Linked DNA regions of Homo sapiens: all the other regions are linked to region 3. Evidence: fine-mapped expression QTL. A gene starts in region 3. Each other region holds a variant in brackets. All regions are shown on one strand. Distances are from middle to middle.

Region 1 (8,108 bases), 32 kb before region 3:
AGCCATCACTGTGGTCACAAGTTGTTTGCCAGGAAAGACACAAAATCTGGCAAGACACAAATGCCCCGTGAAATTCATTGATAAGCAGTTTCCGTTGTAAATATGAACATACAAATTTATTACATACCCTTTATTGCACTTATACAATGAAATGACTAAGAAGATTGTAGTTCTTCATCACTTTATCAGCACAATCTGTAGGTCTAGACTTAAATTATCCTCTTCTTTCTCACATCTCGTTTTCAGAAATCACCACATGGACTCTCCAACATGATTGGCAATATAAATGCTAATAAATGATAACACAGAGGGCATAATAAATACTTGAACAGAAATTGCAAAAAAAAAAAAAAAAGAAAATGTCACAATAAAATTCTCTTCTAACCTATATAAACCTTGCCTTGCAATGCTTACCACAGCAAAATGCCAGAGCAGAAGCTGAGTTGCAACACACACAAAAATTCCTTCCTTAGAATGGAAATGTCCCTGCAATTTACTATTAGGTTGGGTGCAACTTGCTTGCTCCCTTGTATCTGTCAGGAGTGCAGAAGGTTGGTCAGGGGAGGTGATCTTGGGAGGGAGAGACTGGTATCTTCAGACTAGAGTCTTTCCATGGGCACTATAGCATCCACCGATTATCAACAGCCTTCCCCAATTTGCACAGAAAATTGAGAATGGACTCCTGCAAATAAACACAGTCCTGTTCACAGCAACACAACAAGGATTAAGGATCCCTAACAAAATCCCAACAGGGCTGCTACATCACCAGCATTGTGCAGTATGTGAAGTTCAAAAACTGGGGTTTATCCGTAATGTGATACCAACTTACTCCTGCAAGAATGGCCATAATCAAAAAATCAAAAAACAGTAGATGTTGGCGTGGATGCAGTGATCAGGGAACACTTCTAATTGCTGGTGGGAATGTAAACTAGTATGGCCACTATAGAAAACACTGTGGAGATTCCTTAAAGAACTAAAATGGAACTACCATTTGATCCAGCAATCGCATTACTGGGCATCTACCCAGAGGAAAAGAAGTCATTATAAGAAAAAGATACTTGCAGATTCATACGAAAAGTCATTATACGAGAAAGATACTTGCAGATTTATAGCAGCACAATTCACAATCACAAAATTGTGGAACCAACCCAAATGCCTATTAATCAACAAGTGGATAAAGAAACTGTGGTAGAAATATACAATGGAATACTTCTCAGCCATAAAAAGGAATGAATGAACGGCATTTGCAGTGACCCAGATGAGATTGGAGACTATTATTCTAAGTGAAGTAACTCAGGAATGGAAAAGCAAACATTGTATGTTCTCACTGATATGTGGTAGCTAAGCTGTGAGGACACAAAGGCATAAGGATGATACAATGGACTTTGGAGACTTGGGGGAAAGGGTGGGAGGGGTCAAGGGATAAAAGACTGCAAATAGGGTGCAGTGTATACTGCTCGGGTGATGGGTGCATCAAAATCTCACAAATCACCACTAAAGAACTGTAACCAAACATCACCTGTACCCCCAGTAACCTACTGCAAAAAAAATTTTTTTAATTAGGGTTTACTTTTTCATTCACACTCCCTTGCAGAATCACCAGTGACATCTCACAAGATGCCATTAGAGAAACTGTGTCCTAGAGCGTAGCTTAAATGAGCATGCACATTTATGTCTGACTATTTCTGCTAAAGAGTTCTTAAAGAACAGATGTCAGCCTGCTGATGCTCCACTCTCTCATTGCCCTATGCATTTGAGTGTTTCAGAAGAAATTCATATGACCCCGCTGGGGCAGAGATTCGTCTGATGCCATGAAACTTCGAGTAGACACGAAGGAAAGGCAAGAAATTAAACACAGGAGAACTTGGTTCAGTATCTGGGGCCAGCAAGGAATTATGCACTTAGAACCCAGATGATAGGTCTCAGTGAGGCAGGTTATCTCCACCTCTCCCTATCCCCACCCATCAAGCCCAAAGAAGGTGGATTAGTCTGTTTTCATGCTGCTGATAAAGACATACCCAAGACTGGCTGATGTATAAAGAAAAAGAGGTTTAATGGACTCACAGTTCTGTGTGGCTGGGGAGGCCTCACAATCATGGTGGAAGGCAAAAGGCACATCTTATATGGCGGCAGGCAAGAGAGAATGAGAGAGCCAAGTGAAAGGGGAAACCTCTTATAAAATCATCAGATCTGGTGAGATTTATTCACTACCACAAGAACAGTATGGGGGAAACTGCCTCCATGATTCAATTATCTCCCACTGGGTCCCTCCCACAGCACGCGGGAATTATGGGAGCTTCAATACAAGATTTGGGTGGGGACACAGCAGAACCATTTCAGAAGACATAAAGGCTTCTCTCACCTGGAGGATCCTTCACACTAAAGGTTCCTGGAACAGGCACCACCGAATCCTGGATTCATCTATAGCAGGAACAGGTAAGGGATCAGAGAACAATGATCCCTTACCCCATTACAAAATGTTCATATTTTAAATGTCTCCTTTACTTTCTTGCTAAGTACATGGTAAAACCTAGTGAAAGCAACATTAGGCAAGCCCAAGTCCTTATTTTTGTCGATTTTTTCACCCAGACCAATATTTGGGGTCTGCTCTAGTTCACAGATTGGTCTCATTTTGAACTCATGTTGATAAATCTCCAATAAACACTCTTCATGGCCTGGAAATTCTTAGAGGCTTTTCAGGTAAGCCTGCTCTACCAGCTCTTATCAAAGTGACCGCTCTCTTGCGTGTTACCAAATATGTTGGATATTTGTATCCTGATTTTACACCACCTTTTAGTAGCATTTTGTGCATTTCACTATCTCATCTTTTATTTTTTGCTACAAGAATATGTATTCATTGTAACAACTTTATTGAGATATAATTTACATACCATGCAAATAATTCATTTAAAGTATACAATGTGGTGGTTTTTAACACAATCTGTTTTGGAATATTTCATCACCCCAGAAAGAAACCTGTACCCACTACCCATCACTCTCTAATCCCCCCAGCCCTCCTTCCAGCCCTAAGAAACCAGTAATCCACTTTCTGTCTCTAGAGATTTATCTATTCTGGATATTTCATATAAATTGAATTATATATCATGTGATCTTTTATGACTGGCTTCTTTCACAGAGTATGTTTGCAAAGTTCAGCCATGTTGTAGTATATATCAGTATTCCATTCCTTTTTATTGCCAAATAATATTTCACTGTATAGATCTACCACATTTTGCTTATCTATTAATCACATGGCGGGCATTTGGGTTATTTCCAGCTTTTAGCTATTATGAACAATGCTGCTGTGGTCATTCATGTACAAGTCGTTGTGTGGACATATGTTTCATTTCTTTTGGGTATATGCCTATGAGTAGAAGTGCTGGGTCATATGTTAACTCTGTGTTTAACCTTTTGAGGAACTGCCAGACTGTTTTTCAAAGTGACTAAACCATTCTTACATTCCCATCAGCAATGAATAAAAGTTCTAATTTCTCTGCATTCTCATCAACACTTATTATATCTGTTTTTTTTAAAAAAAATTACAGCCATCCTAGTGGGTGTGAAGTGGTTGTGGTTTTCACTGGCATTTTTCTGATGACTAATGAGGTTGAACATCCTTTCATGTATGTACAGGTTATTTTTATATCTACGTTGGAAAATGTGTATTTAGATCTTTTGCCCATTTTTTTAAATGGTTGACTTGGTGTTTTTTTTTTAATTAGTGAGTTGTGTTATTTATATATTCTAGACACAAGTCCTTTATCAGATATATGATTTGCAAATATATTCTTCAAGTCTCTTGGTTGTTTTTCCACTTTCTTGATGATATCTTTTGAAGCACATGTTTTCATTTTTGAAGTTCCATTTTTTTTCCTTTTGTTGTTTGTGCATTTGGCATTGTATTTAATAAAACATTGCCTAATCCAGAGTCTCAAAGATTTACCCCTATGTTTTCTTCTAAGATTTTTACAGTTTTAACTCTCACATTTAGGTGTTTGGTCCATTTTGAGTTAATAATTGCATATTATGTGAGGAAGGGTCCAGCTGTTTTCTTTTGCATGTAGATATCCAGTTGTTCATGCACCATTTGTTAAAAAAAATTCTATTCTGTTGATTGTTTCGGCAACCTTGCTAAAAATCAATTGACCATAAATGTGAGGGGTTATTTCTGTGTTCTCAATTCTCTTCTATTGATTTATATGTCTATTTTTATGCAGCACCACACATCCTCTTCTTGAAACATTCTTCTCGTGGCTTCCAGACCACAAAACTTTTCTGGGTTTTTTCCAATCTTTCCATCTCCTGTGTAGTTTCACCTACTTGTTGCAGCCATATCCCTGAGCTCTAAATTTGTCTATCTGACTGCTTCTGCTGCATCTCCATTTAAATGTCTCATTTAAGGCATTTCATACCTTACATGTCCAAAACTAAACTTTTGCTTATCTAAGATAGCAAAATATTCTTATTCAAGTCTTCCCATGAAAATGGCATTTCATCCACCCAACTTAGCTAGAAACTTGAAAATCACTTGTCTCCATTTCCTAACATCATCTGTATCAATTGGGATCTAGTCAAAAGACAGAAATCTCACTAGTTATTTTAACAAAATGAATTTAATATAAATAATTTCAACCAGATGTTAGAGAATGCAAAAAGACAAAAAGAAAACATTAAGATATCACAAAACTATTAAATGCGGTGAAAAACTATCTGCCTTAGGTCTGGGGGAACACAGAGATAAGGTTGGAGTTATTAAGAGCTTGGGATTATGAGACACCTGGAGGAAATATTCCATAAAGCAGGACTTAGACCTCTAAGGAGGACTCTCCAGCCAGCCGTTGCTCCTGTCTCAGGATGGGTTTGGAATGGGAGTGAAGCTGAACCTAGCAATATTAGGAAA[C/T]GTGCAAACTGAAATCTACTGTCACTGCCAAGGTGTATTAGTATCATCTTTGCTAGAACCTTGCCAACAGGAACTGGAAGCAAAAAGGAAAGAGCAGGTCTCTTCCTATGATGCCTCTAGCCTTTCAGTGTCCCTTAGTGTCTTCCTTCAGCAGAGCTTAGCAGGTTGGCAGCTGATAATGCAGAAATTTTGTGATATAGAGTCTCCATCTCAGCATCCAGAAGAAATGGGTGTGGAAGGACAGCTTTGAAGCTGAGAAGCAGTAACTTAGTAACCAGCTCAGTCCATCCTTTTGATTACTCAGCACCCACACTTCCTGTTGTTTCTGCCTGAATGCTCTGGACCCTACCTGCCTCTCTAGCCTCAATCCCTAACTCACAGTATGTTGACCATTTTAACATTCTTTCAGATCCCCAAATCCCCAAAATGATTTCTGGCCTTAGGATTATCACATTTCACCTGGACCACTCTCTACCCCATATCCATACCAGTTCTTTGCCTGACTGGCTCCTTCTCATCTTCAAGTCTCAGTTAAACTATCTCTTCCACAGAGCGGGCATCCTTAACCATGCAATTAAAGAAGCAACTGACTCTTGCGTATAACAATTTTTCTTTTCCATCATTGTATTTATATATTCATTGTATGTTTATTCATGTGACAATTTTTTATGTCTGTCTCCATCAATAGAATATGAGCCCAATATTTACCTTGTTTATCACTTTATATATAACATCCATCATAGCACCTGATATTTCGTAATGCTGAATAAATATATGTTGAATGGATGCTACTGAACCAACCCACTGTGTTGTCAGGGGTACCATATTCATCTGCAAAAGAGATCCGTTTTGTTTTGGGCAAGTGTTAAGTCAAGAAGTGGAGGTGAACATTTAAAAAACCTAGTGGAGAGAATATTTTTCTTGGCCTAATTGTAACCATGGTGCACCCAGACCTGAGATGCATTTAAAAACTTTTTTAGTTAAAAAAAGAAACATTTCAAGAAACAGGATCATAGTCATCTGGAAAATAAAAACAGAAAATGGGTATTTGGAAGAACTGGAAAATAGGTAAAAGTAGTTCAGATTATGAATACTTTGAAGGCCAAGCACAGGATACACAGCTGTTTGATTTCCCCTGAAAACTCAGCAAAAAGGATGAGCTTCTGTTGCAGTAGCAGTGGTCTAGTTTTACCAACAGGAAGAAATTCCAATAAAAGTCATGTGTCATTTGAATAGATCAACAACAGGCAGGTAACATGTGTATTCAGTAGAAGAAAGGGGATGTTTGGGACTTGAAAGTGGAAGAGAGGAATAAGGAAACAGTGTCTTTCAAATTGACTTAGAATTTCCTCTTTTCTGTGTTCATGTTTTTCACTAGCTGTTCCCAAGTGTCCTCAAACAAGTCATTTTTCACTGCAAGGATAAGTCTCAGCCAATACCTTTCACCAGATAACATGGAAGATTCCTAACTTATAGTAGGGGCCAGCATCATGGGCATGCAACCCATGTAGTCACAAAGAGCCCTGTGCCCAGAAGGGCAACACACTTGACATGAGGTTCTGCTGTTGCCATCATGAAATTCATCGATTTCTGATTAAGAGATCCTGCATGTTTATTTTGGACTAGACTCTGCAAATGGTGTAGCTAGTCTTACTCATAGTCTAAGTTCTGAGCCATATTATGCTAAAAGAATTTCCACATATAAGTCCTTCCCAACCCTGGGCTTCATTTGATAACTTTATTTTATTAATATGAGTTTAGAAGGTACTATGTCCAATCACCCTTCCCAGTCCCTGAGATTCCCTCCCCTGCCCTTGATGACATGCACGATTTCTGCTACATAATAAGCATGGGTGGGAATTCACTATAATTTGAATTTCCCAAAATAAAGATCACAAATTAATAAATCTGCTAAAGATGATCTTGCACATAACTAAATGACTTTTGTGCAAGGGGACATTTAAAAATATATTCCCCGAGTGTAAATTGCCTCCCTCCTTTCTCTGCTACCTCAGATCCCTGACCTCACACCAACTAGAAATACAGTGGAAATTATCAGTACAGCATTATTAATTCTAGTTTTCCACTAAAAGACCTGTATTGTTGAAACAAGACTTTATACATGAAGCATTTTGTAGTTCTGTGAGTGCTTTCACATACTTTGCATCATTTGACCATCACAACAGATGTGTGGTAAGCAGAGTGGATCTTATAATTCCATGTAGTAACAGTGTCAAGGGCAAATACAAGGAGATGGCAACTCAGGGTCAAGTCTAGCCTAGACCACTTCCTTGGTTGTAAAATGAAGATGAAATGTGATCATATGTGTGAAACTCCTAGTACAGTGCCCAGCGTGGAATACATAGGCATTTTTGCTGTTGTGTGCATGCCACCCTGGAGAAATTGAGGACAAACATGGTCCTGATTAGAATCCCATCCACTCACCACCATCCGTCTCCAGCAGTTCCCACAAGCATCCTGCTTTCTCATGGCCCCTTGACTTTCCACCTGCTGCTCTGTCCAAAATTGCTGCTGCCCATTTTCCATCTGGTTAACTCCCACTTACTGTTAAAGACTTATCTCATGTGGCCCTTTTTCTAAGGCTTTCCCCTCTCAGCTCTTCTCCAGGCTGTGTTAGGTGATCCTTCCTGGGACTCCCGTCTCCCTCTCCTAGGTATGGCTGCACCGTGTTGTGCTATAGCTGCCTGCTCCCAAGTTTGTCTCCTCTGTTGCCAATACTTACCTTTAGGTCAGGTAATCTCTGTTTTGCAGTTCTTGAGTAGATGTTCAATCAATATTCTTTCCTTAAATGAATGAATACATAAATGAATAAAAGAAGGTAGGAAGGAAGCAATTAATTTGCTTTTTGTGTGTGCCCCTTGTAACATAACTGAGATGCCAACAGCTTTTCCACTATCCTGGAGATAAGCCAGCACTCTGTTTTAAAGCAGAAAGCAGCAGGGCATGATTTCCCTCAAGGAAAGCATTTCTTGAGTTTCCAGGGATCTAGCCTGTGGCCACAGGTTTAGAAATGATAAGACAGCTGAATCTGAGTTGGGGGAAGGAGCATCAGTTCATTGCAAAGATCATTTTTCTTGGCACTAGTCAAAGAAGAGGACAGAGACATCTGCATGTCCCAATGACATCACTTGGCCCTGCCTTGCACAATAGAGGAAAAGAGCTGTCAGGGCAAATTTCCAGTTTATCT
Region 2 (8,108 bases), 25 kb after region 3:
GGGACCTGCCTCTCTGCGCGTGACCATGCACTTGGGACTCTCTAAATGTCTCACCGGAGAATCAATAGCCCTAGTTCAGCTCTGAATGAAGTTTCTCGTCGCCCCCTTCTCTTACACCCTAAGGATAAAGACTGTCTCTGAGAATTTTCCCCAAATCTTCCTAACATAGAGATAAAAATAGTAAAATAAGAAATTAGACCCCTCAACTTCAACTTTAAAATCTTATTTCTCTTCCTGCATCACGGTGACCACCTCCTCACAAGTGCAAGAATAGATGACGATATTCCAGCATGCTGTGATTCTCCTAAAAACCTGCTGCTCCTAGGGACTCTGTGGAGTGAGTTTCCTGGACCGAAGTCACTTCTCAGATCTTCATGTTACACCCATGATGTTTGCTTGCTAAACCATCAGCTTAAGTTATTTATCCTGTATCTTTTATCTCAGTTTTCTGGTTGCATTTTATCTGTGTCATCTTTACTTTAGTCAAGCTAACGCTGTGGTTTTGCAAATTAAATCAGCTGTGGGTTTCAGTATGTAACTCCTCTTTGTGTTTACTAAGCCTTTTTTAAAAAAAACAAAATAGTACTGTATGTCTGTTTACATCTTTAGTAGTGTGTAAGGGAAGATTGTTTTCTTTAGAGTTCTTTTGAACAATTTCAAGGCTATTCAGAAGGATCCATTTTAAGAAACCAAAACATCTTTTTAAAATGCCTTGTTTAATATATATCTTTAGCCATAATGGAATCCCCTTAAAATTTTGAAGTTGATCTGTAATAAAGAGGTTGTGTGGGTCATGAGTCTGGACTTTATAGTTCAGACAAAGAGAATCTGCTTCATGTTTCAAAGCAAGGAAGAGATTTTTTTAAAAGACAGCTCACATGGCCCGTGTAGGGGTGGAAAAGGCAGCGTGAAAGAGCAAGGGGATAAGTAATTAAACATCTATTGGAATCATGAAATTATTAAGAGAAAATGTCTGAAGTTCCAGAGCTAAAAGACTGAAGAGCAGTGATGAAATGCAACAAAAATAACCAGAAAAATCCATGGGACTTGTTGCGTAGATGGTTGGAGGAGATGAAGATGAAGGAGAACTCAGCTGGTTCCAATATTTCTAGCTTGGAAGACTCAGTAAGTGGTAATTCCATTGATCAAGACAGGACAGAGAGGAGAGGTACAGACACTGGAAAAAGTAGAATTCATGTTTGTTTCAGTTGTGTTTGAGGGGCTGGTGGAACATCACCTGGAAAGGTCCAATATGGAGTTGAATACAGGGGACCGAAGAAAGTGAATGTATAGTTCAAGAAAGATATTCTTTTTGAGGCTACTACTAGGTAGAGGGTCATAGGAGCCATCAAAATAGATGAGATTGACCAGAAATGTTGGTTTAAAAAAAAGGGGGAGGAAAGTCAAAATGTATTCCAAAATAGTTAGGTAAAGAAGTGAAACCAACAGAATAAGCTGAAGAGTGAGCTGAGAGGGAAGGAGAGCAGGAGAGAAGAAGGGAGTCGACAGTGTCCTGTGCAGTGTCAAGGAGGAAGACCAAGAAATTGAATTAAAATACAATTGATAGTACAGAGTTACATTTGGTATAGAGAAAGGTCTCTGGAACAAAAGGAAGAAGGTCTCTGGTTGAGGAGGAAGACCATTTCCAGCCGCAGGGTCTGGAAATGACCAAGTCATCAGCGCTCTTGCAGGGAGCAAGATAGATCCACAGAGTGCTGGCTGGAGGAATCCATATGGCAGAGGGCAGAGAAGCGAATGGAAGGGGAGGAAGCAAAGATGGTTCAGGAAGCTGGTTGGTGAAGGAAGGGAGGTAAGGCCATAGCAGCGGGAGAAGCCACGGCAGAAGTTGTTAGAGGTTGCAAAACCGGAGGGTGTTTATAAGCGGGAGTGGGAGACAGGCAGAAATCACAAGAATGGCAAGGGGTTAAAGAAAAGAACAATTCCAAGAGTGTGTACAGGGTTAGGATCATGTATGCATGAGGCATTCAGGGAAGAACTAGATGGAGACTGGGATAAGTTGAACCAGAGCGAAGGAAGTTGAGCCATTTATGTCTTGCGGCTTCCAGTTTTTCCTTAAAATTAACAAGCTCATCTGCCGAGGTGGAGAAGGCAGAGTCATGGTTTTGGAGACATAAGGGGAACAAGTGTGGGACAGCCCGTTTAGGAAATTGGAAAATAAACAGGCCAGGAATAAGATCAAAAATAAAGCCAAGATTGTTGGCAAATTCAGCAATAAATCAAATGCTTACATAATTCATTGTTTTTTATTGTAGTGAAAATAAACATAAAATTTACAATTTTAACCACTTTAAGTGTAAAGTGCAGTGGCATTAATTAGATTCATGACTGTTTCCAGAACGTTTTCATGACCCAAGCAGAAGCTCTGTACCCAGTAAGCAGTAACTCTCCATTTCCCTCTCCTTTCAGTCCCAGGCCACCCCCTTCTACTCTTTGTCTCTATGAATTTGCCTCTTCCAGGTAGCTCATATTAAGTGTTGCTTTTTTTTTTTTTTTTTTTTTCCCAAGACAGGGTCTTGCTTTGTTGCTCAGGCTGGAGTGCAGTGGTGCAATTACAGCTCACTGTAGCCTCTAACTCCTGGGCTCAAACATTCCTCCCACCTTACCCTCTTGAGTAGCTAGGACTACAAGCGTATGCCACTGCACCCAGCTGGTTTCTTAAATTTTTTGTAGAGATGTGAGTTTTGCTATGTTGCCCAGGCTGGTCTCTAACCCCTGGCCTCAAGTGATCCTCCTATCTCAGCCTCCCAAAGTGCTGGGATTACAGGCATGAGCCCTCATGCTAACCTATTTGTTGCTTTTAAAGCATTAATCATGGGATAAGAAAAAGGAATAAGTTATTCTTCTGCTGTATAACACTCTGTAAATGAAGAGGTCATTCCTAAACCATATCCTGGTTTTGTTGTTGTTGTTGTTTGTTGGTTTTTTGAGGCAGAGTCTCGCTCTGTTACCCAGGCTTCAGTGCAGTGGCACGATCTCAGCTCACTGCAACCTCTGCCTCCCGGTTTCAAGCGATTCTCCTGCATCAGCTTCCCCAGTAGTTGAGATTACAGGCATCCACCACCACCCCAGCTAATTTTTGTTTTTTTAGTAGAGACGTGGTTTTGCCATGTTAGTTAGGCTAGACTTGAACTCCTGATCTCAAGTGATCTGCCCACCTTTGCCTCCCAAAGTTCTGGGATTACAGATGTGAGCTACCGTGCCCACCTGGCCCATACCCTGTTTTTTTTTAAATCCACCATGTGGTATCCATTTATAAAACCTTATTATTAATACAATGCTATGAAATTGATATAATGCTTTACCCTTAAAGTGATTCAAATCAGCTGAAGCTTTGAACCTCTCTAAATCCTACTTTGAATTAAATATTTTCTTTATCATACGCATACACAACAATGAATGTCTTTTTTCCCCCATCCAAATGATAGCACAGAATTGTGAATCTGTTTCTGTTTAGTGTTCTCTTCCAGAGGATTGCATTATTCACTGAATGTCTGTTGTCTGAAATAGAAGTTCCCACAGTAGTTTGTGTACGCATCATTTAGGAAGATAAGTGGTTTTTCCTGTTATGTATACAAATAACCAGTCTGTGTTAATGTCTATTATGGGTGACATGAACAGATCCTTCTCGAGGAGGTTTACATGTGTCACTATAGCATTAGATCTTTTTTTTTTTTAACTTTTATTTTAGATACAGGGAGTATATTACATGATACTGAGGTTTAGGGTGCGATTGATCCCATCACCCAGGAACTGAGCATAGTACCCAATAGTTAGTTTTTCAACCCTAGACCCCCCCCCTCCCACCTTTACTTGTCCCCAGTATCTATCGTTGCCATCTTTATGTCCATGAGTACCCAATATTTAGCTCCCACTTCTAAGTGAGAATATGCATTATTTGATTATCTGTTCCTGCATTCACCACTTAGGATCATAGCCTCTAGCTGCAATCATGTTGCTGCAAAGGACATGATTCCATTCTTTTTTGTGGCTGTATAGTGTTCCATGGTGTCTATGTACTACATTTTCCTTATGAGCATCTAGGTTGACTCCATGTCTTTGCTGTTGTTAATGGTGTTGCCACGAACATAGATATGCGTGTGTCTTTTTGGTAGGGTGATTTATTTTCTTTTGGATATATACCCAGTGATGGAATTGCAGGTTCAAATGGTAGTTCTGTTTTAGATTCTTTGTAGACTTAGTAATTTTTAATGGAAATGAATTATCTTCCCAATGAAAGTAAATTCTAATAAAAGACTTATTGAAAGAAATGTCTGATATTGGGATCATTTTCCTAACACAATTTCCATTTTCATTTTCTGTAAAGCCCCCACAAGAGTTGACAGAGTTCCTGAGGTGGCGATGAGTGAGCCGTGCCTCTTTCTACAGTGGATGTAGTGGATGTGGCTTACAGATGCCTTTTACATTTCCAGCTGTAGACAGAAAATGCCAGAGGCCACAGCATTTCCCCAGGCCCTGAAACTAAGCTAACACCCTCTAAATATTGCCAAATCAAAGTAATAGAAAGGAAAACTGTTCTCATATTGTCTCACTTCCCCAAACATATCTCCCCTAATTCAGTTCCAACCACACTTTAATTCCCAGTTTGGACCCCCATTTTTCTCCTGAAACTACTGCTGGAGAGTTCTCTCTCTTCGGAGTTGCAGTTCCTTCTGCAACGTTGCATGGACTTTGGTACCAACTGGCCTTGGTTGCTTTGTATATGAGTCCTGTATCCCAAGGAGACTATAATCTTCCTGACGGTCGTGGGTTTCAATTCCTAGAATCACGAAATAGCAGCACTTTACAGATGAGAACATTAGACCCAGAGAGGTAAAGTAACTTGCCTAAGGTCACACAGCTGAATTCAGCAAACAGGTGAATTAGTCTTTCTTCCCTACTTGAACTACTACTTGAATGAGTGCTCCGAGACTTGATGTCTGCGACACTCTGTTTTTTTTT[A/TA]CTGTTTCCACTGCACTTTTTTGTTCTAGAGACCTTTCTCCATACCAAATATAATTCTGTACTATCAATTATATTTTAATGTATAAAATTATAGTCACATTTCAGGTCCTGCCTCCCAGGGATAACCTTGACTAAAGTTTTAGGTGCTCAGAAATAATTTAGTGACACATTTATAGATTTTAAAGTTTGGTAAGAAATTTGGAAGTAACTGCCAAAGTTGAAGATATGTGCATACCGCAACTTTGTAGGTCTATTGCTTTGCATGTATTCTATCGAAACTCTCAAATATGTTCCCAAGGAGGTATCTACAAGGATGTTCACAGCAGCATGAGTTATAAGAAAGTGGAGGAGAAGGAGGAGGAAGGAAGAAGAAGGAAAAAAAGGAAAAGATGAAACATCAATAGAAGAAAAGATGGATAGCATATTTCTTTCTTCTTCTTCTTCTTTTGTTTGTTTGTTTTTTTTTTTTTTTTTTTTTTTTTTTTGAGACAGGGTCTTGCTCTGTCACCCAGGCTGGAGTGCAGTGGCACTATCTCGGCTCTCTGCAACCTCCACCTCCAGGGCTCAGGTGATCCTCCCACCTCAGCCTCCTGAGTACCTGGGGCCACAGGAACACACTACCATGCCCAGCTAATTTTTGTATTTTTAGTAGAGGCAGGATTTTGCTATGTTGCCCAGGCTGGTCTCAAAGTCCTGAGCTCAAGCGATCTGCCTGCCTCGTATGTCTATTCCGATGGAATCTGCAGCAGTGGTTCTCAAAGTGTGGTCCAGGAGATCATTAAAACCTTTTCAGGGAGTTTGCAAAGTCAAAACTGATTTCACAGTATTACTGAGGTCTATTTTTCCTTTTCACTCTCATTCTGTACCTTGAAGTTTTCCAGAGACTGCATGTTCTGATAGCCACAGGCTAAACGCAGAAACTGTCTTCTATTAAACCAGACATTAAAGAGATCACAAAAGTGTCAAACAGTGCCACTTTTTTTCAATGTTTTTTGCTTTGAAAAACATAATTATTTATCATAAAATATGTTGTCTTCACGTATTACATGATAGGTTTTCATTATTTTTAATTAAAAAAAAATTTTAATTTTTCTCCTTCTTATTTTCTGATGTGGTAAATATTGACAGATATAATCCCTATAAACCAAAGCTCTTTGTTTTTCTCACAATTTTTAAGAGAATAAAATAATTCTTAGAGTAAAAAGTTTGGTTGGGTGCAGCGACTCACACCTGTGATCCCAGCACTTTGGGAGGCCAAGGCAGGAGGATCACTTGAGGTCAGGAGTTTGAGACTGGCCTGAGCAACCTAGTGAGACCCTGTGTCTACAAAAAATAAAAAAGAAACTAGCTGGGTGTGGTGGTGCATGCCTGCAGTGTAACTAGTTGGGACACTGAAGGGGAGGATCACTTGAACCCAAGAGGTGGAGGCCGCAGTGAGCTGTGATTACACCACTGCACTCCAGCCTGGGCAACAGAGCAAGACTCTGTCTAGAAAGACAAAAAAAAAAAAAAAAGACTAACAGGTTTGAGCCCTGCTGTTGCAGACAGTGAGAATGAATGAATGGAGACTGCACGCACTGAGCCTGAATCTTGGAGGCACGATCACTGGAGTTGCAGGAGAATATAAACAGTGATTTATATTGTGTTTTATAACTAGTAAAACATGCTGTATGCAGAATACATGTTTTTAGGAATATACAGGTATATAAAACATGTATAAAAAGTTATTTTTATATTTGTGTATATCTGAAACACTTTATAATACACTTGAAAAACTATAAATAGCTATATAAGCTCAACAACCACAAAAAAAATTAGAAAATGAACAAAAGACTTGAGTAGACATTTCCTCAAAGAAGATATACAGATAGCCAACAAGCATATGAAAAAAAGTTCACTATCAGTGATCATTAGAGAAATGCAAATCAAAACCACAATGAGATACAGTCTCACACCAGTCCGAATGGCTATTACTGAAAAGCCAAAGAATAACAGATGCTGGCAAGGTTGTGGAGAAAATGGAATGCTTATACACTGTTGGTAGGAGTGTAAACCAGTTCAACCATTGTGGAAAGCAGTATGGTGATTCCTCAAAGAGCTAAAAACAGAGCTACCATTCGACCCAGGAATCCCATTACTGGGTACATAACCGAAGGAATAGAAATCGTTCTATCATAAAGACACACGCACGTGTGTGTTCACTGCAGCACTATTTGCAATAGCAAAGACATGGAATCAACCTAAATGTCCATCAGTGGTAGATAGATAAAGAAAATGTGGGCTGGGCGTGGTGGCTCACACCTGTAATCCCAGCACTTTGGGAGGCCGAGGCAGGCGGATCACAAGGTCAGGAGATCGAGACCATCCTGGTTAACATGGTGAAACCCCGTCTCTACTAAAAATACAAAATATTAGCCGGGTGTGGTGGCAGGCACCTGTAGTCCCAGCTACTCAGGAGGCTGAGGCAGGAGAATGGCATGAACCCAGGAGGCGGAGCTTGCAGTGAGCTGAGATGGTGCACTCCAGGCACTCCAGCCTGGGTGACAGAGTGAGACTCCATCTCAAAAAAAAAAAAAGAAAAAAAAAAGAAAATGTGGTACATATGCACCATGGAATACTATGCAGACACAAAAATGCATGAGACCAGGACTTTTGCAGAAACGTGGATGGAGCTGGAGGCCATTATCCTTAGCAAACTAACACAGAAACAGAAAACCAAATGTGGCATGTTCTCACTTATAAGTGGGAGCTAAATTATGAGAACACATGGACTCAAAGAGGGGAACAACACACACTGGGGCCTGTCAGAGGGTGGAGGGTGACAGTAGAGAGAAGATCAGAAAAAAATAACTATTAGGTACCAGGCTTAGTACCTGGGTGATGAAATAATCTGTACAACAAACCCCCGTGGCACAAGTTTACCTGTATAACAAACCTGCAGGCGTACCCCTGAACCTAAAATAAACATTTAAAAAAAAGAGAAGATGCTCAACATTACTTACCATTAGCAAATACAAATTATAATCCCATTAGAGAAGTGCAAATCAAAGGAGATATTGCCTTGAACCCATTAGGATGGCTAGATCAAAAAACAAAAAATAACAAGTGTTGGTGAAGACGTGGAGAGT
Region 3 (8,104 bases):
AAGTTCCGAGTTGTGGGAAGATGGGTTGTGGCAGCTCCGGGAGCAGACACATAGGATTTCCTCCTTCCTCAGCTCTCAGGAGGGCCGCTGGATCCAAGGCAGGGGTCAGGTATTTCCGAGATGAAGTGAACTGAATAGGGCGGCTACCCGAAAGGCAGTCCTCAGCATTATTCCAGGAAACATCAGGGCAGAACCTGAAAGAGGAAAAGAAGTACACAGCTGAAAGTTAGGGTGTGTTTAACGTAGTGAGTGGAACCTCACCGCCCACGTGTCATCCCCTCCAGGAAATGCCATTTCCTCTTCCAGGAAACAAAGGTGTGGAGAACTTCTGAGAGCAGCCACGTTTATATAACTAAGAGACAGTGTCTAATAGAAAACAGAAACACCCCATGGCCTGGGAAAGGAGATGGCGGGTCTACAGGATGCTGGCATCAAGAATATCTAGAGGTGTCCACTACACCTAATGGATACCAAGAACAGATGTGAATTTTTTGTTTTAGATGAAATTTTACGATAAAAAAATCCCAATTTTGTAGATATATGATGGATGTTGTTTTAAAAGATCTGATCTTCAGGTTAACGGGTTTCCTGTTGTAGGACTATACGATTATAGGACAATTGAGTAGCCAAGAGTCCTCAAAGATCAGTTGTCCAAAAGAGAAAGAAAGAGAAAACTGAGTGTACGATGTAAGAATGGAGAATTGGCTGGGCGCAGTGGCTTATGCCTGTAATCCCAGCACTTTCGGAGGCTGAGGTGGGCGGATCACCTGATGTCAGGAGTTCGAGACCACCCTGGCCAACATGGTGAAACCCGTCTCTACTAACAATACAAAAATTAACTGAGCATGGTGGCAGGCACATGCCTGTAATCCCAGCTACTCAGGAGGCTGAGGCAGGAAGAATCACTTGAATCCAGAAGGCAGAGGTTGCAGTGAGCCAAGATTGTGCCACTGCACTCCAGCCTGGGTGACAGAACAAGACTCCATCTCAAAAAAAAAAAAAAAAAAGGAGAATTAATTATTCAGCAGCTCTTGAGATGGTGGCTCCAGCCTGACCTGGGTTTGAATCTTGGTTCTGGTACTTTAGTAATTGTGGGATCTTGAGCGAGGTACATAACCTTTCTAAGCCTTGTTAGTCTCTTCTGTTAAAGAGAGATGATAATGATGATGATACATATCACATCAGATTATGAATATTATATGAGTAGTGCGTCTAAAGTCATCACAGGCTGGGCATGGTGGCTCACCCCGATAATCCCAGCATTTTGGGAAGCTGAGGTAGGAGCATCACTTGAGCCCAGGAGTTTTAAACCAGCCTGGGCAACATAGTGAGACCCCGTCTCTACAAAAAAATCTTTTTAAATATTAGCTTGGTCATGGTGATGTGTGCCTGTAGTCCCAGCTATTTGGGAGGCTGAGGTGAGAGGATAACTTGAGTCCTGGGGGATCAAAACTGCAGTGAGCTATGATCACGCCGCTGCACTCCATCCTGGGCAACACAGCAAGACTCTGTCTCAAAAAGAAAAAAAAAAGTCCTTATCATACCTGGTGTATATATGAAACTTTTTCTAAAGCCACTAACTACTGATTAAATTAACAGGACATATGAGCTTCCTTTCAGTGCCTAATTGTCAATGAGAAACCCAGATATGGAGCGTGAGGAATCTACCATCTTCTAGGCACAGTAGCTGTTATCCGTTTGCCATTTCTTCTTTGCACTGTAACAGGATCCGCTGAAAAACAATTGGAGAAAGAGCCAGATGGATGGCAGTCTGAACTAGGGAAGCTTCTGTTTTGTAGTTTGCAGAAAGAATCTGCATGGGGATCACTGCTTAAGCTTTGCCTCTTTGTTTCCAGACACAGACGCACTTTCCTGCCTAATTTCCATAGCAAATACCCAATGAGCGCCTACTGTATGCCAGGTTCTGATGATGTCAGAGTGAGCCAGCACTTCCGAGGTACTGGCCACTCTCAAACCTCCTGGCTAGGATCTTCCAAGAGCTACAGCCTCTGGCCTGAGGGTCAGTCCAATGCTGTTAGATATTGACAAATGCGGGGCTAATTTTAATGGAATATAGTTTTATCCTTAAAAGGTGTGTGTGTTTTGGCTTTATTTGGGTTCATATAGATTAGGGGCATCATCATAACTCGCTTCCTAGTGCAGACCTGAGTGATTTAATCAAGTCTTGAAACACTTCGGGGCCTCAGTTTTTCATCTGCCTTCCCAACCTCTGAGGTTCTTTTTAGTTGACATCCTACATTCCCATGATCAGAAGGCTGCTAATTCAACTTTTGGCTTTTGTTAAACCTTTTTTTTTTTTGAGGCAGAGTTTTGCTGTCACCCAGACTGCAGTGCAGTGGTGAGATCTCAGCTCACTGCAACCTCCTCCTCCCAGGTTCAAACGATTCTCCTGCCTCAGCCTTCTGAGTAGCTGGGATTACTGGCACGTGCCACAACACCCAGCTAATTTTTGTATTTTTAGGAGAGACACGATTTTGCCATGTTGGCCAGGCTGGTCTCAAACTCCCAGCCTCAAGCGATCCACCCGCCTCAGCCTCCCAAAGTGCTGGCATTACAGGCATGAGCCACCGCACCTGGCCTGTTTTGTTTTGTTTTAATCGTTTTTAATGTCTCTCTCAAAACAAGAAAAGAAAAAAGGACAAAAAATTACTATTTTACTTCTCAGATTAATCTGATCTTAGTACACTACAGCAACAAAAGTCTTAATCAAGTACGTTTTAATTATTTGGTGTCATCATTGCAAGGAAACCATTCAGTAAGAATATTAGTAACCAGACATATAATTTTCTAACCTGAATGAGAAATTAGTTACATGGAGTATAGAAAAAGAAACCACCCCGTTTATCCTCCCTGTGACCATCATTAGTATTACCCGCAAGGCATAAAAAGTCCTAAAATGACACGCACGGCGGCAACATTACCTTTGCAGCTTCAAGCACAGTAAAGTTGAAAGCAGTCCCACCTTGGCAATTGTGTATAAAACGACAATGTGCAGATACAGGAAAAGTCCCAGGTCCGAAGCCACCTAGGAACGATGACCCCAGGACAGAAGTGTGCCCAAACAAATGCCTGGGGTAGGTCATTTTAAAAGGAACAATGTTTACAAGCCCTTTCTAGCGTGAAAAACAGAGAAAAGAGACCCAGCTCTTTCCACCCAATCTGCTGGAGCGCCGTTTCGTTTTCAGTTGGGCGAGAGGGAGACATGTGGCCTCTCGCCCCTTTTCCTGACTCTGAGAATGTGGCCGGAGCCGGGGCGCTCCTGCTCCGCCTCGCCGCCCTCCCGGGGCTGTCCTGGGCCCTCCGGCCGCCGCCTCCCGCTCCAGTTCGCAGCTGGGCGACAAGTGGCTGGTAAGGAGGCCAGGGGCGGGAGCCTGGGCGCGGGACCGGGGGCGCACGGCGGGGGACCGAGCGCGCGTCCCTGGCTAGAGGTGCCGGGTCCCGGGAGGCCGGGCTGGCGGGGAGGCTGGCGAGCGCCCCCTGGCGGGCACCGCCTTCTAGGCGCACCCGCAGTGCGCCGGGCCCGCCAGCCCCGCCAGCCCCGCCAGCCCCGCCAGCCCCGCCAGTCCCCGCGCAGTCCCCGCGCAGTCCCCGCGCAGTCCCAGCGCCACCGGGCAGCAGCGGCGCCGTGCTCGCTCCAGGTAGGGCCCCGCGCCCCGCGCCGCCGCCGGGAGGGAGCGGGCTGGAGGGGCCGAGACCCGTGGCGAGAAGGGCTACCCGGGCCCCTCGGAGAGCCTCCGGGAAGGGGTGAGGGCTGCCGGGTGAGCAGGCGGAGTAGGAAATGGAACCAAGCGGGCGCAAGAGCGCACCGGGAAGAATTTCCCCGCTGGGTTTCTGGGACGCAGGTCGCACGGGATGCGGGATGCTGGCGACCTTAGCCGGGTGGGGGCCGCCGGCCTGGGGGCGCTTCCTCCTTTCTTCTCCCTTTTCCTTCTCACCTGAACGAAAGGGGGCCTGCGGGGAGGGAAGAAGGTGGAAAGTTTTTGTATTCTTGGTAAAAAAAAAAAAAAAAAATGCGTGAGGAAACATGTTTTCTGGAGATGGTATCCTGTCCACAGGGGAGCATAACCCCTTTTCTGGGAATGTATTGGAGCACGGACGGGGGTGCCATTGCTCAGGCTTCTAAACAAGCCAAGTTTCTGGTCAAGGGCCTGGGGGAGGGGGAGGCAGGTCTTTGAAAGATACCAAAAAAAAAAAAAAAAGAAAAATCTGCGTGCTCATTCCTGTAGCCTCAAGTGAGGTTATTCCCCAGCTTTGAGGGCCAGGTTAACCAAGCAAAGTTTGTGCAATAAAGTATCTTTGTGGTATTGGATTTTCGAGAGCCACCGTTATCAATGGGAGAGTGACTGTTGAATGCTACAGGCGTGTGCACTCCCCCGTGGGCATGAAGAGAGGTCCACGGGCTGGCTGGATTGGGAGACTCCGGTCATTTCTGCAAGGAGAGCGCCACAGGACTGCCTTGTTCCCTGGGCTGTCCTGCCCCTGTGCGGGCTGGACGTGGTGCTATAAAAGATGATTCAGGAGTGGCACAGGCTGAGGGGGACTAGGCTGGAGAAGGTGGAGGGAAGAGGGAGCACTCCGTGCCCTCTTCCTGTCCATGGGAAATGAACCATCTGTGCCTGGTGTCCAAGTCCTTGACGTTCCAGTTGCCCTTTGAGAGCACACCTCAAGCCTGCTGAATTCTTTTAAGAACCACCTACAAGATCTGAGAAGTCCGCCCATGCTTTCTGTCAACTCCGGCCTCTTTGACCTTTTCTTTTGCCAAAGAAAATTCTAAACCACTGGGATTCGTGAGGCTCCGTGAGAGAGGCAAGAAGCCTGGAGGGTCCACTCCGTTGCTCTTTTCCCTTGGTTTGCTCCCTAGAAGCCATGGTCCCCACTGGGCCCTTCTTGCCCGAGGCTGTGTGATAGACAAGCCCTATTCCTAAGGTCCTGGGTCCCCCACCCCACCCCACACCCCGACCTTGTGAATCATCATCTTCATATTTTCCCTAACTTATCTTTGGTAACCCTTGTAAAATGGCAGGCTTACTGCGGATGCTTAATCTCTTTTAAAAGTGCTGTGTCTAGCGGGAAGAAGAGTGACATTTACTAATATGGTTGCAAATTACTTTTGAAGTTTATGCACAGCTGTTTAAAATCCCTCTGAGATCAGTGCCATTGTTTGATGCAGGTGCTTACCGCAGAAGGCTCTTGTTAGTCCCTTCCTCCTGCTGATTGAACATACATATATTTAAAGACGTGGCGTAGGGAGAGCTTCTAAAACCTGCAAAGCCAAAGCTGCACAGCTCCTGCAAGTTAGCGATCCACTCTAAGTTTTTCAGTTGTTGTTTCTGTCTTCTTGCCTCTCATGAACTTCTGTTTCTGATTTCAAGAGTAACCTGCTGGGCACCATCAGCCTTTGTTTCAGTGACCTGCGATTTTCTTCTACACTTTAAAAATGTCAATATCCAGGCAAGACTCTTGTCACCCACCATCCGCGTTGTCATGTTCATTTCCGCTACTGTCTTGTGCTGTGGTGCCTCGGGATGGCAACTGTTACTTGAGGAGCTAACTTCTACCTCTGTTCTCCTACAGACATGTCCTCATTGCGTCTTCGCTCACCATACACGGTGCAGCTCCTGGAAATTTGATTTGTTTTGCTGTCTCACTTCTCCTTCAGGCAACAAGGGGATGGTGTTCGATTATTCACACCTCAGCTCCTTCTGTAATCTCAAAGATCCCTTTCAACAATAATACTCTCTGTCTCTTGTTAACGCCAGGCATCAGAAGCCCCCTTACATAGCCGGCTTGTCACTGGTCATTTCTATAAAGTATTCTCATTCTAACACATGCTGTCTCTTCCGTGGAAAAGACTAAATTCTTCTCTGCAATGAATTAGATGTTTTAACCAAAATTCCATGTGGACTGGGTCCAGAATTTTCTTTCAAGAGTATGGGCTTGTGGTACAAGTATGTAACTTCGGGGATTCAGAAGTAGACCTACACAGACAAATCTCCTTATAACGTGTTATTTAATTATGGTATATTTGCCTTTCTGGAAATTAGGAATTAGAGTTAGTACTTCCTGTTTTTAATGCATTTGATTGATGTCTTAGAGTTGCTGATTATGTTGTTGCCCCTAAAAATGTTGCTAATGTGCTGGTTTGTTAACAAGGTTATATTTGATTTCAGGTGATTTCCTTTTTATGGAGTTCAGTCTTTAATTTTTTTCAATAATTTGCCTCAAATCATTTAAAATGATATATTGTTATATAATGAAAATCCCAGCAATATAGACGTGATTCCGTGTGTGTGTGTATGTGTGTGTGTAATCTGTAATTTAAAATAGAGAAATTAGTATTGTGACGGCATACATAGCATTAAACTCATGCTTGCTGTTTCTGTTGTTTTAACACTTTAAGCAGCTCATTTCTAAGCAGCTATGTGTTCAGCTCAGCTTTTTCATACCTATTCCAATTGTTAAGGAAGAAGTCATGAGAAACTATAGAAAAATGTGATGTTGAACCAGAGAGATGGATTAAAAGCTGTTTCCTTACAATGGTGAAAATATCTTTCATTATTTTAACATGCCAAGCATTTATACATGTCAAATTCTGATTGCTCTGTCATCTAAACACATTCTTGGGGACAAAATGAGCATCAGAGTTTTAAAATTAGGAAAGCTCACTCAAGCCCAGAATCATAGATTTTTGCTCCTGGATTAAATTAGCAAGTATTTGGCAGGACATCTTTCTGCAGGTTGCTGTAGGTTGATGTTAGCTTTTGAATTAAGCTAATAGTATTAATTATAATAATAATAATCAGCATCAACAAAACCAATGAAATATGGTTTTGAGTCTTTATTATTTAGAATTTATGTGCTGTATATCATACTCAGAATTTTATTTATATGTAAGAGGCATTACTGCTTCATTTAACCTCCAAAAGCCTTTATAAATTAGATATTATTATTATTCCAGTTTTTCAGATGAGGAAACTGAGGCTCAAGGGGTAGAGCCCCTTGTCCAGGTCTTATAACCAGTCAGTGGTAGAGTCAGGTTAGTTGGACCATCCAGATTAGTCTAACCATCAAGCATTTGCTTTAAACCGCAGTCCCAGGTGACCTACCAGTTAACTTTTTTATTGTGGTTAAAATACACATAACTTAAAATTTAACTTCTTAACTATTTTCTAGCGTACAGTTCAGTGACATTAAGTATATTCACATTGTTTTGCAACCATTGCCATCATCCATCCACAGGATTCTTCTCATCTCCTAAAACTGAAACTCTGTCCTCGTGGAACATTCGTTCCTCATCCGTCTTTCCTCTCAGCCCCTGGCAGCCACCCTTCTACTTCCTGTCTCTAAGATTCTGACTGCTCTAGGGACCTCACAGAAGCAGAATACAGTATCCATCCTTTTGTAACTGTCTTATTTCACTTAGCATAGTGTTCTCAAGCTGTATCCATGTGACAGCATTGGACAGGACTTCCTTCCTTTTTAAGTCTGAATACTATTCCATTTATGGATATACCACATTTTGCTTATCCTTGTATCTGTTGATGGTTGCTTCTATCTTTTGATTATTGTGAATAATGCTGCCGTGAAGAGGAACACGCAGATATCTGTTTGAGGTCCTGCTTTCAATTCTTTGGGGTATGTACCCAGCAGTAGAATTGTGGGGTCGTAGGGTAATTCTATGTTTAATTTTTTGAGGAACTGCCATATTGTTTTCCACAGTGGCTGGACCGTTTTACATTCCCACCAGTGGTAGAAAGGGTCCCAATTATTCCACATTCTCAGCAACGCTGTCTTTTGTTTTGTGTTTTTTGAGATGGAGTCTCGCTGTGTCGCCAGGCTGGAGTGCAGTGGCATGATCTCAGCTCACTGCAACCTCTACCTCCCAGGTTCAAGCAATTCTCCTGCCTCAGCCTCCTGAGTAGCTGGGACTATAGGCACGCGCTGCCACACCCAGCTAACTTTTGTATTTTTAGTAGAGATGGGGTTTCACCATGTTGGCCAAGATGGTCTCGATCTCTTGACCTCATGATCCACCCACCTTGGCCTCCCAAAGTGCTGAGATTACAGGCGTGAGCCACCGCAC
Region 4 (8,108 bases), 50 kb before region 3:
CACCCCAATCCCTTATTTCCACGCCCCGACCTCTTATTTCTGCGCCCCATCCCTTATTTCCGTGCCCTGACCTCTTATCTCTGAGCCCCAACCCCTTTTCCCACTTTTCTGGAAGGTAAGAACCCCTGAACCCCTTCCTTCCATTTCTCTACTCTCTCTTTTCTCTAGGCTTGCTTCCTTCACTATGGGAAACTTCCACCCTCCATTCCTCCTTCTACTCCCTTGGCCTGTGTTCTCAAAAACTTAAAACCTCAACTCACACCTGACCTAAAACCTAAATGCCTTATTTTCTTCTGCAATGTCTCTTGACCCCAATACAAACTCGACAGTAGTTCCAAATAGCCAGAAAATGGCACTTTGAATTTTTCCATCCTGCAAGATCTAAATAATTCTTGTTGTAAAATAGGCAAATGGTCTGAGGTGCCTGATGTCCAGGTATTCTTTTACACATCAGTCCCTTCCTAGTCTGTGCCCATTGCAACTCGTCCCAAATCTTCCTTCTTTCCCTCCCGCCTGTCCCCTCAGTACCAACCCCAAGCGTCACTGAGTCTTTCTAATCTTCCTTTTCTACAGACCCATCTGACCTCTCCCTTCCTCCCCAGGCTGCTCCTTGCCAGGCCGAGCTAGGTCCCAATTCTTCCTCAGCCTCTGCTCCTCCACCCTGTAATCCTTTCATCACCTCCCCTCCTCACACCTGGTCCGGCTTACAGTTTCGTTCAGTGACTAGCCCTCCCCCTCCTGCCCAGCAATTTACTCTTAAAACGGTGGCTGGAGCTAAAGGCATAGTCAAGGTTAATGCTCCTTTTTCTTTATCCCAAATCAGAAGCGTTTAGGATCTTTTTCATCAAATATAAAAACCCAGCCCAGTTCATGACTCCTTTGGCAGCAACCCTGAGACACTTTACAGCCCTAGACCCTAAAAGGTCAAAAGGCCGTCTTATTCTCAATATACATTTTATTACCCAATCTGCTCCCGACACTAAATAAAACTCCAAAAATTAAATTCCAGCCCTCAAACCCCACAACAGGATTTAATGAACCTCGCCTTCAAGGTGTACAATAATAGAAAAAAGTTGCAATTCCTTGCCTCCACTGTGAGACAAACCCCAGCCACATCTCCAGCACCCAAGAACTTCCAAACGCCTGAACCACAGCGGCCAGGCGTTCCTCCAGAACCTCCTCCCACAGGAGCTTGCTACATGTGCCGGAAATCTGGCCACTGGGCCAAGGAATGCCCGCAGCCCGGGATTCCTCCTAACCTGTGTCCCATCTGTGTGGGACCCCACTGAAAATTGGACTGTTCAACTCACCTGGCAGCCACTCCCAGAGGCCCTGGAACTCTGGCCCAAGGCTCTCTGACTCCTTCGCAGATCTTCTCGGCTTAGCGGCTGAAGACTGACGCTGCCGGATCGCCTCGGAAGCCCCCTAGACCATCACGGACGCCGAGCTTCCGGTAACTCTCACAGTGGAAGGTAAGCCCGTCCCCTTCTTAATCAATACGGAGGCCACCCACGCCACATTACCTTCTTTTCAAGGGCCTGTTTCCCTTGCCTCCATAACTGTTGTGGATATTGACGGCCAGGCTTCTAAACCTCTTAAAACTCCCCAACTCTGGTGCCAACTTAGACAATACTCTTTTAAGCACTCCTTTTTAGTTATCCCCACCTGCCCAGCTCCCTTATTAGGCTGAGACACTTTAACTAAATTATCTGCTTCCCTGACTATTCCTGGACTACAGCTATGTCTCATTGCCGCCCTTCTTCCCAATCCAAAGCCTCCTTTGTGTCCTCCTCTTGTATCCCCCCACCTTAACCCACAAGTATAAGATATCTCTACTCCCTCCTTGGCGACCGGTCATGCACCCCTTACCATCTCATTAAAACCTAATCACCCTTACCCCACTCAACGCCAATATCCCATCCCACAGCACGCTTTAAAAAGATTAAAGCCTGTTATCACTCGCCTGCTAAAGCATGGCCTTTTAAAACCTATAAACTCTCCTTACAATTCCCCCATTTTACCTGTCCTAAAACCAGACAAGCCTTACAATTTAGTTCAGGATCTGCGCCTTATCAACCAAATTGTTTTGCCTATCCACCCCATGGCGCCAAACCCATATACTCTCCTATCCTCAATACCTGCCTCTACAACCCATTATTCTGTTCTAGATCTCAAACATGCTTTCTTTACTATTCCTTTGCACCCTTCATCCCAGCCTCTCTTCACTTTCATTTGGACTGACCCTGACACCCATCAAGCTCAGCAAATTACCTAGGCTGTACTGCTGCAAAGGTTCACAGACAGCCCCCATTACTTCAATCAAGCCCAAATTTCTTCCTCATCTGTTACCTATCTCTGCATAATTCTCATAAAAACACACGTGCTCTCCCTGCCAATCGTGTCCGACTGATCTCTCAAACCCAAGCACCTTCTACAAAACGACAACTCCTTTCCTTCCTAGGCATGGTTAGCGCGGTCAGAATTCTTACACAAGAGCCAGGACAACACCCTGTAGGCTTTCTGTCCAAACAACTTGACCTTACTGTTTTAGCCTAGCCCTCATGTCTGCATGCAGCGGCTGCCACTGCTTTAGTACTTTTAGAGGCCCTCAAAATCACAAACTGTGCTCAACTCATTCTCTACAGTTCTCCTAACTTCCAAAATCTATTTTCTTCCTCATACCTGATGGATATACTTTCTGCTTCCTGGCTCCTTCAGCTATACTCACACTTTGTTGAGCCTCCCACAATTACCATTGTTCCTGGCCCAGACTTCAATCCGGCCTCCCACATTATTCCTGATACCACACCTGACCCCCATGACTATCTCTCTGATCCACCTGACATTCACCCCGTTTCCCCAAATTTCCTTCTTTCCTATTCCTCACCCTGATCATGCTTGATTTATTGATGGCGGTTCCACCAGGCCTAATCGCCACACACCAGCAAAGGCAGGTTTTGCTATAGTACAAGCCACTAGCCCACCTCTTAGAACCTCTCATTTCTTTTCCATCGTGGAAATCTATCCTCAAGGAAATAACTTCTCAGTGTTCCATCTGCTATTCTACTACTCCTCAGGGATTATTCAGGCCTCCTCCCTTCCCCACACATCAAGCTCGAGGAATTGCCCCACCCAGGACTGGCAAATTAGCTTTACTCCACATGCCCTGAGTCAGAAAACTAACATATCTCTTGGTCTAGGTAGACACTTTCACTGGATAGGTACA[A/G]GCCTTTCCTACAGGGTCTGAGAAGGCCACCGCAGTCATTTCTTCCATTCTGTCAGACATAATTCCTCAGTTTAGCCTTCCCACCTCAATACAGTCTGATAACAGATGAGCCTTCATTAGTCAAATGAGCCAAGCAGTTTTTCAGGCTCTTAGTATTCAGTGAAACCTTTATATCCCTTACGGTCCTCCATCTTCAAGAAAAGTAGAAAGGACTAATGGTCTATTAAAAACACACCTCACCAAGCTCAGCCACCAACTTAAAAAGGACTGGACAATACTTTTACCACTTTCCCTTCTCAGAATTCAGGCCTGTCCTTAGAATGCTACAGGGTACAGCCCATTTAAGCTCTTGTATAGACGCTCCTTTTTATTAGGCCCCAGTCTCATTCCAGACACCAGACCAACTTGGACTGTGCCCCAAAAAACTTGTCATCCCTACTATCTTCTGTCTAGTCATACTCCTATTCACCGTTCTCAACTACTCATACATGCCCTGCTCTTGTTTACACTGCTGGTTTACACTGTTTTTCCAAGCCATCACAGCTGATATCTCCTGGTGCTATCCCCAAACTGCCACTCTTAACTCTTGAAGTAAATAAATAATCTTTGCTGGCAGGACTATGCTGAATCTCCTTAGGCACTCTCTAATCAGATATCCTGAGTCATCCCAATTCTTAGACATTTTATACCTGTTTTTCTCCTTCTGTTATTCCATTTAGTTTCTCAATTCATCCAAAACCGTATCTAGGCCATCACCAATCATTCTATATGACAAATGTTTCTTCTAACATCCCCACAATATCACCCCTTACCACAAGACCTCCCTTCAGCTTAATCTCTCCCACTCTAGGTTCCCAAGCCACCCCTAATCCCGCTTGAAACAGCCCTCAGAAACATCGCCCATTCTCTCTCCATACCACCCCCCAAAAATTTTCGCTGCCCCAACACTTCAACATTATTTTGTTTTATTTTTCTTATTAATATCAGAAGGCAGGAATGTCAGGCCTCTGAGCCCAAGCCAAGCCATCACATCCCCTGTGACTTGCACGTATATGCCCAGATGGCCTGAAGTAACTGAAGAATCACAAAAGAAGTGAATATGCCCTGCCCCACCTTAACTGATGACATTCCACCGCAAAAGAAGTGCAAATGGCCAGTCCTTGCCTTAAGTGATGACATTACCTTGTGAAAGTCCTTTTCCTGGCTCATCCTGGCTCAAAAAGCACCCCCACTGAACACCTTGCGACCCCCACTCCTGCCCGCCAGAGAACAAACCCCCTTTGACTGTAATTTTCCTTTACCTACCCAAATCCTATAAAACGGCCCCACCCCTATCTCCCTTCACTGACTCTCTTTTCGGACTCAGCCTGCCTGCACCCAGGTGAAATAAACAGCCATGTTGCTCACACAAAGCCTGTTTGGTGGTCTCTTCACACGGACGCGCATGAAAGTTTGTGTAAAGATTTATTATACCAAAACTCTGTGAGCAGTTCATTAACCTTCAAGGAACTACCATGTATTACATTCAAAGACAAAGAAAATCAAAACTTTATCTATCTTGGGGCAGCCACGATATTGAAGACAGGTCCGTAGTATTTTCTTGATTCTGAACATTAATTTTGAGCTCTTTCAGAGAAGTAGAGGAAGATGCAACATGGAATGTCCTTTATACATCATTATAACTCCTCCCTGGCTTTCTAGCTTGCCCTGAGGTGACCCACGTTTTAATATGCAACTTGAAAGTCTGTTTAATTTAGAAAGAGTCATGACCAGGAATTTTCAGAGCAAATTTTAAAAGTCATGATGGGGACTGGAAACTAGACCTAAACTTGAAAGATGTTTGTCAGCAAGGTTTTATTGTATTCCATTCGAATCTGCAAGCAGACAAAGCACCAATGATAACGTAGCACCAGCAATAACAATTATAGTAATAATATCTGCCATTTTTGACCATTATCCTGCAATAAGCATTGTGCTTGATATGCATGATTTCGTGCAAGTCTCACACTAACCCTTTGAGGAGACAATACATTTTGTATCCTCATTTTATATACAGAACAAATGGTAGGAGAATTGGGTTATAACAAGGAATCAATAAACAATGTAAATGCATGCTATATGATAGTAGTAGTATCTTCACATTGAAAATAATTTGGCTTCAGTAAAACACATTTTAATCTGTCCTGTTAAATTGCTAATTCTACACTTAATCTTAATTTTTAAGTTTCATGTTTAAGGACTATGAACAGAAGGGTTTTAAATCTTAGGTTTAAATAATAAAAACTAATTCAGTCAGTAATCAGATATATATATATATATATATATATATATATATATATATATATATATATATAGAAAGAGAGGGGAAGAGAGAGAGAGAGCATAATATTGTGATTTATTTTAAGGAATCTGCATTTTACTCAAATTTATGAAGCATTGGAGTACACACTGATAGCTGCAAGAAGACAAAAGCAATGGCCAGGTGTGGTGGCTCACGCCTGTAATCCCAGCACTTTGGGAGGCTGAGGTGGGCAGATCACTTGAAATCAGGAGTCTGAGATTAGCCTGGCCAACATGGTGAAACCCCATCTCTAATAAAAATACAAAAATTAACCAGGCGTGGTGGCACATGCCTGTAATCCCACTTACTTGGGAGGCTGAGGCAGGAGAATCGCTTGATCCTGGGAGGCAGAGGTTGCAGTGAGCCCAGATCACACCACGGCACTCCAGCCTGGCTGATAGACCAAGAGTCCCTCTCAGAGAAATAAAAAAAAAAAAACAAAAAAAAAAAAACAAGAACTGATTATGCTAATCCTGGAGGAAAGAGATCGATGGTAAAGAAATAAAGAAACATGTCAAAAGAGTACTCAGTCATCTAAAAGCCTCCTGCCCAGAAGAGTTGTTGCATTTTTCTTCATGGCCCCAACTGCTAGAATTACAATTAATGGGTGGAGGAAGCCACACACACATGGACCAACACACACATACACACATGCACCCACACATTTACACACACGCACACACACACACAGTTGTGGCAAAATTGAATGAGCTACCTTGGGTGGAAATGAACCTCCTTTCACTGGGGGCATTTCAACAAAGACTTCCATGACTAGTGTGGGCAAGAAGGGTTGACCAGAACATTAAGACCCCTTACTGTGCTAGGATTCTCTGCCTCTTAGGGGAAGAGTGTTGAAGCTGGGAAGTCAGAATTAATGTCACCATTTTGCCATGACTAGATCTGTTTGTGTTGAAACCTCAAAAAAATAGGCAGTATCTTGAAGACACAGAGACACCAACCAGGGGAGGGAAAGTACTTGTTTTTTCCAAGGAACTCCTTAACAACGACAAGGGGGTAGAGGAAGGAAAGTATTAATAACTGGGCTGATGACATGTGAATGACAATAGAACAGCCTCTCATGCCTTGCAGATGATAATCTCCCCAGTGACCTTTCTCCTTGCTACACGTTTTCACAGAGAATCCAGCTCCCCAAACCTCCTTTCCGCAACTCACCACACTCCCACCTAAGACATGCATTAAATTGGCTCATTCCTCATGCCAGAGAAGTCTAGATAGGAGAAAATGAGTCTTTATTGGCAAGAAAGAGCCAGCAGACAGATAGCAGATGAATGGGAAGGAAAGATCACTCGGCTATTTTAAGAGAACTGACAGGAGGCGGGTACAGTGGCTTATGCCTGTAATCCCAGCACTTTGGGAAGCCAAGGCGGGCAGATCACTTAAGATCAGGAGTTCGAGACCAGCCTGGCCAACGTGGTGAAACCTTATCTCTACTAAAATTACAAAAAGTAGCCAGGCATGGTGGTGCACGCCTGTAATCCCAGCTACTTGAAAGGCTGAGGCAGGAGAATCACTTGAACCTGGGAGGTGAAGATTGCAGTGAGCCAAGATCGTGCCACTTCATTCCAGCCTGGGCGACAGAGTGAGATTCCATCTCAAAAAAAAGAGCGAGAACTGACAGGAGATGCACAGATGAGCATCTCTGAGAAGTGAAAGAGCCCAGGTCACTGAAGCTGATGGAGACCTAGGGGAGCTTGGTGACAGTGGAAATGGCCACATTCGTGTCACGGTCCAGCATCTGTGGCAGAAAAATATAACAATCAATTAAAGTTACAGTAAATAAACAAATACAGACCAATTACATATCTTCCTCCTTTTCTGCAGTATAAAAAGCAGTGATCACCGTTTCCAAATTTTACAGGATGTTGATAAGTGGGAAAACATACTTCAAATTATTTTGTTTCCATAAAGAATGTACGTAATATTTCTGTAAAGTTGCATTGATTCAACATACCTAAACCTGATTTCTTGTATATAGTAAATAAAACAGTGCATATCTTATTTTTCCCTGGTTTATAAGTTATCAAAAAAATGGATAAAAAATTATGCCTGAGCGGTTGTGTATTTCCTCCATATAATGGTTCCGTATACACTCATCATAGCATACCCCCTCTGCCACCCAGTTTAATGTTGCAACCCTTGCCATTCCCTCTTACGGGTGTCATTCCTCTAACTCTGCTTTTTCTTTTCCCCATAATTACCCTCAAACGCAATGGATAACATACTTCTTTGCTTTGTTTATTGCTTGTCTCTTTCTGCTAGAATGAGGACTCCGTGAGGGCAGAGGGTCTCTGTCTGTGCTTTCCTTCATATTTCCCGTGTCCACAACAGAACCTGCCCCATGGGGCACTTGGTTCATATTTGTTGACTAATTAATTGCCCATTGTCTATTTTCCATCTGCTTTTAACACTCATTGTAGATCCCTTAAAGACAGAAACCATTTCTACTGTGCGACCCCAGCACTCAGTGAGCGCTTTAGCGACGTAGAATGGATGAGGAAAGAGAAAGCAGCAGCCCTTCGC

Alleles and levels. Alleles are on the strand shown, and positions count from the first base shown. SD is a standard deviation of normalised expression in the study named. Not every link is listed here.
For the expression in iPS cells of the gene that starts at base 3,594 in region 3, allele G in region 4 goes with a higher level than allele A (large effect, 1.1 SD a copy in iPSCORE).

Evidence for each region. PIP is the estimated chance that this variant, and not a neighbour inherited with it, causes the effect.
Region 1: its variant is the best candidate, but not a certain one, in a credible set for the expression of PRKCQ in whole blood (TOPMed, PIP 0.55).
Region 2: its variant is the best candidate, but not a certain one, in a credible set for the expression of PRKCQ in whole blood (INTERVAL, PIP 0.71).
Region 4: its variant is the best candidate, but not a certain one, in a credible set for the expression of PRKCQ in iPS cells (iPSCORE, PIP 0.69).

The regions. Positions count from the first base shown.
Region 1 is chr10:6,607,944-6,616,051 of GRCh38, reverse strand. No RefSeq gene overlaps it. Among named protein-coding and RNA genes, the nearest start is that of LINC02648, 6.7 kb to the left of the region's middle. The variant C/T (reference allele first, on the strand shown) is at 4,901.
Region 2 is chr10:6,550,847-6,558,954 of GRCh38, reverse strand. All of the region lies in intron 1 of PRKCQ (protein kinase C theta), which reads left to right. Among named protein-coding and RNA genes, the nearest start is that of PRKCQ, 25 kb to the left of the region's middle. The variant A/TA (reference allele first, on the strand shown) is at 4,981.
Region 3 is chr10:6,575,766-6,583,869 of GRCh38, reverse strand. PRKCQ (protein kinase C theta) reads left to right here and starts at 3,594. Exons shown (of 18, transcript NM_006257.5): 1 at 3,594-3,659. It overlaps PRKCQ-AS1 (PRKCQ antisense RNA 1), which reads right to left and starts at 3,445. Exons shown (of 2, transcript NR_036503.1): 1 at 2,943-3,445; 2 at 1-194. RefSeq lists an enhancer at 89-383 and silencers at 3,183-3,332, 3,343-3,592.
Region 4 is chr10:6,626,145-6,634,252 of GRCh38, reverse strand. It overlaps LINC02648 (long intergenic non-protein coding RNA 2648), which reads right to left. Exons shown (of 6, transcript NR_120634.1): 5 at 5,876-7,323. Among named protein-coding and RNA genes, the nearest start is that of LINC02648, 11 kb to the right of the region's middle. RefSeq lists an enhancer at 3,933-4,504. The variant A/G (reference allele first, on the strand shown) is at 3,227.